2 linked regions of the Homo sapiens genome follow. The protein of the gene in region 2 interacts with the protein of the main gene of each other region in a pairwise test. Each region holds a gene or a part of one and is shown on either strand. Other genes may lie near its edges.

What was found.
Region 1: the proteins of TEAD2 (region 2) and MAP2K5 come close enough for resonance energy transfer, tested with the Homo sapiens proteins (one large-scale study listed by BioGRID).

The regions. Positions count from the first base shown.
Region 1 is NC_000015.10:67,804,703-67,808,555, reverse strand, and holds the end of MAP2K5 (dual specificity mitogen-activated protein kinase kinase 5), read right to left. Parts: intron 1,911-3,853; coding exon 1,806-1,910; 3' UTR 1,442-1,805; downstream 1-1,441. UniProt on the Homo sapiens protein: Acts as a scaffold for the formation of a ternary MAP3K2/MAP3K3-MAP3K5-MAPK7 signaling complex.
Region 2 is NC_000019.10:49,344,310-49,349,693, reverse strand, and holds part of TEAD2 (transcriptional enhancer factor TEF-4), read left to right. Parts: intron 1-634; coding exon of another isoform or gene 635-737; intron 738-848; coding exon 849-991; intron 992-2,330; coding exon 2,331-2,504; intron 2,505-5,384. UniProt on the Homo sapiens protein: Transcription factor which plays a key role in the Hippo signaling pathway, a pathway involved in organ size control and tumor suppression by restricting proliferation and promoting apoptosis.

The sequences.
Region 1 (3,853 bases), on a different chromosome or scaffold from region 2:
CCCAGGGCAGGTGCGGGAGGGGTGCGATTTTAGAGTGGTTAAGTAGGTTTCACTGAGATGCCATTTGAGCTGAGACCTGAAGGGTATAGAGGTGAGCCATGTGGATGCATGAGGGAAGCATGCTCCAGGTACCAAATGCAAAGGCCTACATTAGCTGGCATAATACTAGCTGCTAGTAACATATAAAACCCCATCAAAATAATTGATCCCTAGCTCACTATTTTTATTTATTTTTGAGACAGGGTCTCACTGTCATTCAGGCTGGAGTGCGGTGGTGCCATCACGGCTCATTTAGCCTCAACCTCCCGAGCTCAAGAGATCCTCCCACCTCAGCCTCTCAAGTAGCTGGGACCACAGGCATGCACCACCACACCCTGCTAATTTTTTAAGTTTTGTTAGAGACAGGGTCTCACTATGTTGGCTAAGGCTGGTCTTGAACTCGGGCTGAAGCAATCCTCCCCCCTCGACCTCCCAAAGTGTTGGGGTTACAGGCGAGAGCCATTGTGCCTGGCTCCAAACTCACCCTTTATAATAGCACCAATCCCACCCATGAGATGGAAGCCCAGCTGGGCAGTGGCTCCCTAGCAACGCGGTACCCTGTGGAGGGAGTGTGAACCTTCCATGGCTAGACGTCTCTGCTGTGACCCTGGGTGGTTATGTGCCCGGATGTTCAAGGAGCAGCAAGAAGACCAACTGGCTGGAGTCAAGAGAGAATTTTGGGTGATGGAACCAATATTCTTTGAAGGCAAAGACAGCAGGACTGGATGTGGGTGTGAAAAGGGAGTCAAAGCCATGTCCTGGCATTTTAGGGAGTGCCAAATGGCTTGGGCACTGGGAGGATGGAGATGCCATTTACTGACACAGGAAAGCAGTAGGAGGAGGTCTGGGTGGGGTGGGGGATTAGGAATTTGCTTCTGGACGTGTTGAGATGCTATTCAGACCTTCAAGTGGAATCCTGAGCCCCTTGGAGCCTCAGCTCCTCACCTGCAAAATGGGGGTAGCCAGGCTTACCTGGCATGTGGCTGAGGGGATTTCCTGAGAGGTGAGAGGTGGCAGGTGTGGGGTCAAGGGCAGTGAGGAGCAGGGGTGGGGCTGGGGTGGAGAAGGGCCTCTCAGAACAGCCCACTCCCTCCTCAGCCACGCAGGTCAGGTGGATGTGTCTGGCAGTCCAGTAAGGAGCTCATGGCGGGGGCCTGAGATCCGGGCCTACTCCTTGCCATGGGACCCATCCCAATGCCTCCGTGCTTCTGTTTCTCATCTGACAGTGGAGCTGGGCTGTGGGCCTCAGCACAACTGCGAGGAGCTAGCAGGAGGCTTGCAGGTGCCTGGGCAGGCAGCAGGCACTGTCACACACATCCCTGCTGAAGTGGAGATCCCACCTGCCCCCAGCCCTGGGGGGGGTCACAGACCCCCTGGACCACACAACTCTTATGGCAGAGGCTGTCACAAAGCATTAATACTTTTATTCCCATCAGTGATGCTGACGGGCCTGACCCTTTATAGAGAAAAACATTAGGAAAACAGAAGTGGGCAGGGACCCTGGGAGCCTCCATTCTCAATGCCCCACCCTTTACCTCTCTGCCAGTGTCAGCGCCTTCAAACCAGAAGGTATGGGGATGGCCTGGTGGGGTGGGCCACACATGGGGCTCCCCAGGCAAGGCCACCTGCTGACAGAGGTGAAGGCGAGGGCAGGGAAGCCAGGGCCCAGCAAAGCTCTTCTGGCGCAGGCAGCATACGGAGAAGGGCGACGGGTGGGTTGTTCTCCTTGGTTACTGGTCCTGGGCTTTCAGTGCCCTGCGGCAGCCTCACGGGGGCCCCTGCTGGCTCCGCCTCTCCTCCAGCGCCCGGCACACCCACATGGACACCACGGCGGCATTTCCATCATTGAACTGCACGATGAACGGGTGGCCCTGCGGGGAAGAGGAGGAGGCTGTGACAGGCAGTCCTCGGACTCCCGCGCTCATTGTACTTTCCAGGGCCTGCCCTCAGCCTGGATCTGATCTCTTTCCCCAGTAACCCTGTGAGGTAACGAGGGAGGCTATCAGCTCCATTTCACGGCCTAGATAATTGAGGCCCAGGGACGAGCAGTGACATACTGGTAGTCAGCACCAAGCGTGTGGAGTGCTGGCTGGCACATCTCAGACTCTGCCACCTCTTCCTGAGGCTCGCACTAGCCTGGAAGGTGCTTAAGGGCGAGGGCCTGTCTTCGCTGCACACTCTGCCTGGCCCTTCCTCTGCCCGGCATCACTCGCACGGCCAGTCAGCCGAGGCCTGGCACTGTGTTGCCAGCTTTCCGGTTCAGTTGGTGCCCAGAGACCAAAGAATCATCTCGTCAGAGGCTATGTCAATCCCTTTTAGCTTTCTCCTTTGTCTACAGCTCTCCTATAAAAAGAAGTCACCACCTGCAATTGGAGGGAAGGCAAACATGTCAGGGGAAGTGGGGAGGGGGAGGAATGTGCTGGGCTGTGCACAGGATCTCTGGGTTCCTGGTGAGAAGTTCCATTGGGGGCTGGACTCTGGAGGGGCCGGCCCTGTTGCCCTGTGGCCTGCCTCTGGTTCTAACCCACTTATCACACAGGCAGACCAGATTCTATTTAGCCAGTTCTCTTCTCTGCTGTCCTGAAGCACCAAGATTTACATCCACAATCTTAGGGCCTCCTGGGAATTCCCAGGGAAGGTCAGAAAAAAGCAGGGACAACCCCAGGGTTACCAGGCCACAGTCAGAGGTGAAAGGAAAAGTGAAAAGCCTTCTTTTTCTTCCTCTTCACCAAGTGGCTTCTTGCCCAGGAACTTACACCAAGTGGCTTCCTCTCCTACCCAAAACTGTGCAGCTTGCATGGTGAGACTCGGGGAGCCATAGCGAGGACAGAGAATGGGGGAGATGAGGGCGCCATGTGCCTGCCCCCAGCTCTTCTCCCTCCCTGTCCAGCGGCCGCTTCCTCGCTCCCCCCAGCTCTCTCCTCCCTCCAGCTTCCTCAGCCCCTCTTGGGCCTGTCCTCCACCTGCACAGGCTGGGCTTTCAGGGTTGCTTTCCCAGCACACCCCAGCCTTGACTGCAGCCCTAGAGAGGCTGCTTAAAGAGCCGCATGGCCTCGCCACGAGCTCATCACAAAGCCAGGAGGGATGTGGACCCTGGCTGTCCCAACCTCAGCGCCTGCAGGGGCTGTCAAGGACCAGGCCTGGGTAGAGCAGGGGACGGCATGGCCCCTCTGGACCACAGGTCAGAACTGTGGGGGACAGGAGAATGCTCAGGCCGCCTCATCCTAGGCTGATGCAGTGCCCGCCCCCAACCTTCTCATTCGAGGTTGGGAAACCTGCCCTGGGGACACCCTGCGTGGGTCTATCTCAGAGGCACACAGAGCACTGTCAGAGCTGCGAGGAGGAGGAGGAAACTCGGCTTCGAAGATGCCAAGGCACTCAACCCCGGGCAGGGACCCGCTGAGACTGGGGTGGAGCTAGGCCTGGAGCCCAGCTGGGTACTTCCCATAATCTGCTCATAGCACTCTGGGAGGCTCCTGACACACCTGCAGGACCCCTAAGGGCACAGGGGCCATGGAGGCCAGGCTGGGTGTGGCCCTGTGGATGGCAGAGGTTTGGTCTGGGGCCTGAGCAGGAGAGGCCCAGGAAGGACTGGATTTTGGCTTCCAAGTGTTCTCCTCCCCATATATATGCCCACCCCACGGCTGCTTTCCCAAATCGCTGCCTAGACAGAGGAAATCCTTCCCAAAGTCCAAGCGTGCACACTTCCTCTCAGGAGGCTCAGGAGGGGCGACCTCGTGCCCTTCTAAAGAACAAAGGGAGAAGCTGTGCTCACGAGTGACGGGCCCCTCCCCCCACGCCCGGGGTAACACAG
Region 2 (5,384 bases):
GACCATGGTGGAAGGGGAAGGGGAGCCACTATGTCACATGGTGAGAGGGAGCAAGAGAGCGAAGCCAGGCTCCTTTAAACAGCCAGCTCACATCAACTCAAAGAGTGAGAATTCACTTGTTACTATGGGGAAGGCACCAAGACATTCATGAGGGATCCACCCCCATGACCCAAGCACTTCCCATCAGGCCCCACCTCCAACCTTGGGGATCACACTTTTTTTTTTTTTTTTGAGACAGAGTCTCGCTCTGTCCCCCAGTCTGGAGTGCAGTGGCGCAATCTCGGCTCACTGCAACCCCCGCCTCCTGGGTTCAAGCCATTCTCCTGCCTCAGCCTCCTAAGTAGCTGGGATTACAGGCACGTGCCACCATGCCCAGCTAATATTTTGTATTTTTAGTAGAGACAGGGTTTCACCATGTTAGCCAGGACGGTCTCAATCTCCTGACCTTGTGATCCACCTGCGTTGGCCTCCCAAAGTGCTGGGATTACAGGTGTGAGCCACCGTGCCCAGCTGGGGATCACATTTCAACATGAGATTTGGAGGGGACAAATATCCAAACCATATCAATCTCCCAAGCAGGACTTGGCCAGGGCCAAAAGCTTTCTCCTCCCAAAGTTCTGTCTTTTTCATTCAGGAAGAAACTCCTTCCCAGAAGCCCCCCAGCAGATTTCCCCTAACGTCTCATTGGCTAGGACTGTGTCACATGGCCACTTCTAACTGCAAGGGAGGCTGGGAAAGTGAGTATTTAGCTTTTTCAGCTTCTAAGTGGAGGCAGGCAAGAGACAACAGTACCTGATATATTCCATAAATGTTAGCAATTTGTATTGTTCTTTCTTCTCTCTCTCTAGGGTACGAGCCCCCCCAAGCCCTCTCACCCCTGCCCCCACCTACCCCATCGCCCCCAGCCTGGCAGGCTCGGGGCCTGGGCACCGCCCGGTTGCAGCTGGTAGAGTTCTCAGCCTTCGTGGAACCGCCAGATGCAGTTGATTCTGTGAGTGAAATTTTGGTACAGTCGCTGAGGGATTTTGAAATATAGAGGGTGACAGGAAGGGAATGTATAAAGTCATGGTTTTAAAACTTTAGCATGTATCAGAATCATCTGAAGGGCTTCTTAAAACAGAGATTGCTTTCTGATTTGCTAGATGTGATGTGGGGCTTGAGAATTTGCATTTCTAATAAGCTACCAGGTGCGTTGATGCAGCTGGTCTGGGGACCGTACTTTGAGAACTACTAGCATAAAGGAACTGGAAGGTCATAGGGTGACAAGTTGGGAAGGTCAGAAAAGCTCCCCAGGACATCATTCATTCATTTATCAAACGTGTTTGAGTTTCTACTGTTCACTAGGCTTTGTGATGCATACTAGGAACTTGGAAAAGATTTTATTTCTGTGCTTGAGCTTCTCCTGGGCTAGGATGGAGTGGGCCGACTGTTAGAAGAAACAGCTCCTAACTCTTAGGGACTGAATGCCAGATAAGTTGCATGTAACATTTCAATGTAGGTTCAGCAGGAGCCTTGGACTCAAGTGATTTGGGGATCCAGGCTCCTTCCATTTTGTGGCTCTGCCATTTTCTAAGGCTTCAGAATCTGCTGATGGAGTCTCTGCATCTGGCCAGCAGATGGAGGAAGGGAGAGAGTCAAGATTGTGCAGGAGGTTTTAGGAATCTGACTTGGATGTGTCGACTCTCAGGCCTGGTCACATCCCATTGGCCAGAACTTAGTCATGTGGTCACACCTAACTGCAAAGCGGCCTGGGAAATGTAGTTTCACACTGTGTAAAGGAACCAGGATTTGTGAACACGTAGCAGTCTCTGCCACACCATATAAACATCAATCAAAACATCAACCACAAGACCTCTGTGGATTCCCATTCATTCACTCTTCCATCCATTGACCATTTATGAGCACCTGTTCTATATAGGACCAGGCCTAGGGGGTGTGAGCTTTGCCCTGGGGCTGCTGGGGAGCTATGGGAGGGCCATGACCAGGGGAGGGTCAGGGGCAGGTCTGGAGCCACATGAGGGATGAACTGGAGAGGCGAGGTTGGAGGCTGGGGTGAGGGTGGGAGGCCTGAGGTGAGGCTGAGGCAGTGAGGATGGAGTTGGGGGAGTTGTGGCAGGGAGTTGGGGACTGTAGGACTGCAGGGCTGCAGGGGACTGGGTGCAGAAGCAGGAGTGGGGACGATGGGTGGCAGTCAGGCCCAGTGCTGGGTGGACTGTGTGGAACAGCTGGCCAGAGCTGTGGGGATGGTGACGGCATTTGGTGGGCTCAGGCAGCACAGGCTGGAGATCCAGCTCACCTCCGACTTCTCACCCACGGCCAACCCTCCTCAGTACCAGAGGCACCTGTTCGTGCACATCAGCCAGCACTGCCCCAGCCCCGGAGCGCCGCCGCTCGAGAGTGTGGACGTCCGGCAGATCTACGACAAATTCCCTGAGAAAAAGGGTGGCCTCCGAGAGCTATATGATCGTGGCCCCCCCCATGCCTTCTTCCTGGTCAAGTTCTGGGTGAGTTCTCACAGCAAAATCAAAAGTGCTCACAAATCCTGTGGTGTCCCAGCAAAGGCCTCTGGCCCTGAGAGAATCTGTCGCGGGCCCTACCAGGTCAGCCTGGGACTTACCAGTCAGTCCTCATGGCTTGGAGTGTCAGCCCCCTTTGCAACAAGGAACACCGAGGAGGCCAGCCCCCAGGGTGGGTTGGAGGTGTCTGGGCCTCCCTGGATCCCACTAGACATTGCCACATGTAACTAATACGGTGAGTTACCTGGCCATGTAGCTAATAGGGTCCTGGGCATGGGCTTGCCATGTTCCAGGCTTCCCTGTGCCCCACCTGACTGCACCAAGCCGTGCTGCTAAGGAAAGACCCCTCCCCGTAGCCAGTGGACTTGTGGAGACTGGTTTCTAAAGAGGGGACTGATGCTTTGCATCAGTTTCACCAGACCTTGTTGCTAGAGAATGTCTGGCTTTGAGGAAGTGATGAAAAGAGCCATGGAGTGGCTTTGCCAAGTCCTGTATTCATTTATTTGTTTATTTATTTATTTTTGAGACATAGTCTCACTGTCACCCAGGCTGGAGTGCAGTGGCTGTATCTTGGCTCACGGCAACCTCCGCCTCCTGGATTCAAGCGATTCTCCTGCCTCAGCCTCCCCAGTAGATTGGACTACAGGCACCCGCCACCACATCTGGCTAATTTTTGTATATTTAGTACAGACGGGGTTTCACCATGTTGGCCAGGCTGGTCTTGAACTCCTGGCCTCAAATGATCTGCCCACCTTGGCCTCCCAAAGTGCTGGGATTACAGGTGTGAGCCACCGCACCCGTCCAAGTCCTGTATTTATGTAGCAATCATTTATTGAGCACTTCCTATATAGACGCCTGGTGTCAGCTGCTATTTATATGATTGGGACTAAGAGGGCCCATCTTGCGTGTTTCTTAGGGCTACTTGGTTTGGTGTCCAGTATGATGACTAACACTACAGGGGTTCAATAAATGTGTTTTATTTTCTTTTATTGTTTTTTTTTTTTTTTTTTTTGAGATGGAATTTTGCTCTTGTTGCCCAGGCTGGAGTGCAATGGTGCGATCTCGGCTCACTGCAACCTCTGCCTCCTGGGTTCAAGCGATTCTCCAGCCTCAGCCTCCCAAGTAGCTGGGATTACAGGCATGCACGACCATGCCCAGCTAATTTTTGTATTTTTAGTAGAGACGGAGTTTCGTCATGTTGGCCAGGCTGATCTTGAACTCCTGACCTCATGTGATCCGCTCACCTTGGCCTCTCCAAGTGCTGGGATTACAGGCATGAGCCACTGCACCTGGCCTAATTTTTGTATTTTTAGTAGAGACAGGGTTTTACCATGTTGGCCAGTCTGGTCTCGAACTCCTGACCTCAAGTGATCCACCCACCTTGGCCTCCCAAAGTGCTGGGATTACAAGTGTGAGCCACAGTGCCTGGCCTGGGCTCAATAAATGTTGCCTGGATGTTTAGGGGGTGCTAGTTCTTATAGTAACAAAGGTGGTGGAGGGATCTAGTCTCTGAGAAGAAAGCCTGGCTAGGTGTGGTGGTTCACTCCTATCTTCCCAGCACTTTGGGAAGCTGAGGCGAGAGTTTCGCTTGTGTTCAAGAGTTTGACACCAGCCTGGGCAACACAGTGAGACCTCAACTCTACAAAAAATGAAAAAAATTAGCTGGGTGTGGTGGTGCGCACCTGTGGTCCTAGCTTCTGTGGAGGCTGAGGCAGGAGGATCACTTAAGCCTGGGAGGTGGAGGCTGCAGTGAGCCAAGATTGTGCCACTGCCCTCCAGCCTGGGTGACAGAATGAGACCCTGCCGAAAGAAAGAAAGGAAGAAAGGAAGAAGGAAAGAAAGGAAAGAAAAGAAAGAAGGAAAGAAAGAAGGAAGGAAGGAAGGAAAGGAAGGAAAGGCCTGCTGAGGGCCTGAACTTTACTGTTCTTGCTGGGAGTGTTGTTGTTCTGGAGCTTGCTGTTCACGGTTCTGGAGCTTTCTGCCATGTGAAGCAGAAGCCTGAAACTGCTCTGGGGATGTGCAGCTGAGGGCTTAGACATTGTTGGGGCTTAAGACAGGCCTTATCAGGTCCCAGGACTGGAGAGCCACCCCCTTAGGAAGCCCAGCTGCTGAAGGGGTTCAGAGGAGCAGCTGGTAAGGTCTTTGGTTTTGCCACGGTGAGAGATGGAGTCGGGCCCCTGAGAAGACGGACCTGGCACAGTGTTAGCAACTAAAGTTAGGAAGAGGAAGAGGTGCGCCTCGCAAGGAGGTGACTCAGACCAAAGGTGTGATGAGCTCTTAGGCTTCCTTAGGCCCCACTTGGCCTAGTGACACTTGGCCAGCTGTCTACACACACTTGGCCACTGGGGTCATGGAGGGAGTCTGACCTCTCAGATTTGGCCGAGGGGGAAGTGCTCTGAGGAGGAGTCAGGCCTCCTCAGGCTCCGTGAGGTCCCGTTGCTAGGGAGTAGCCACTTGCCTTAGCAACCAGAGTGAGAGGGGCTTAGAGGGAGGTATTCATCTTGAACTGGTTGCTAAGAAGTAACTGCCATAGTAACCAGGCCCTTGGAAGGGGCTGAACTCTTGAGTTGCGGGCTTCAAGGGAAAAAGGTTGAATTGGCTGGACACAGTGGCTCATGCCTGTAATCTCAGCACTTTGGGAGGCCTAGGTGGGTGGATCACCTGAGTTCAGGAGTTTGAGACCAACCTGGCCAACATGACAAAACCCTGTCTCTACTAAAAATACAAAAATTAGCCAGACATGGTGGCGTGCGCCTGTAATCCCAGCCACTTGGGAGGCTGAGGCAGGAGAATCGCTTGAACCCGGGAGGCAGAGGTTGCAGTGAGTCAAGATCGCGGCATTGCACTGGGCAACAAGAGCGAGACTTC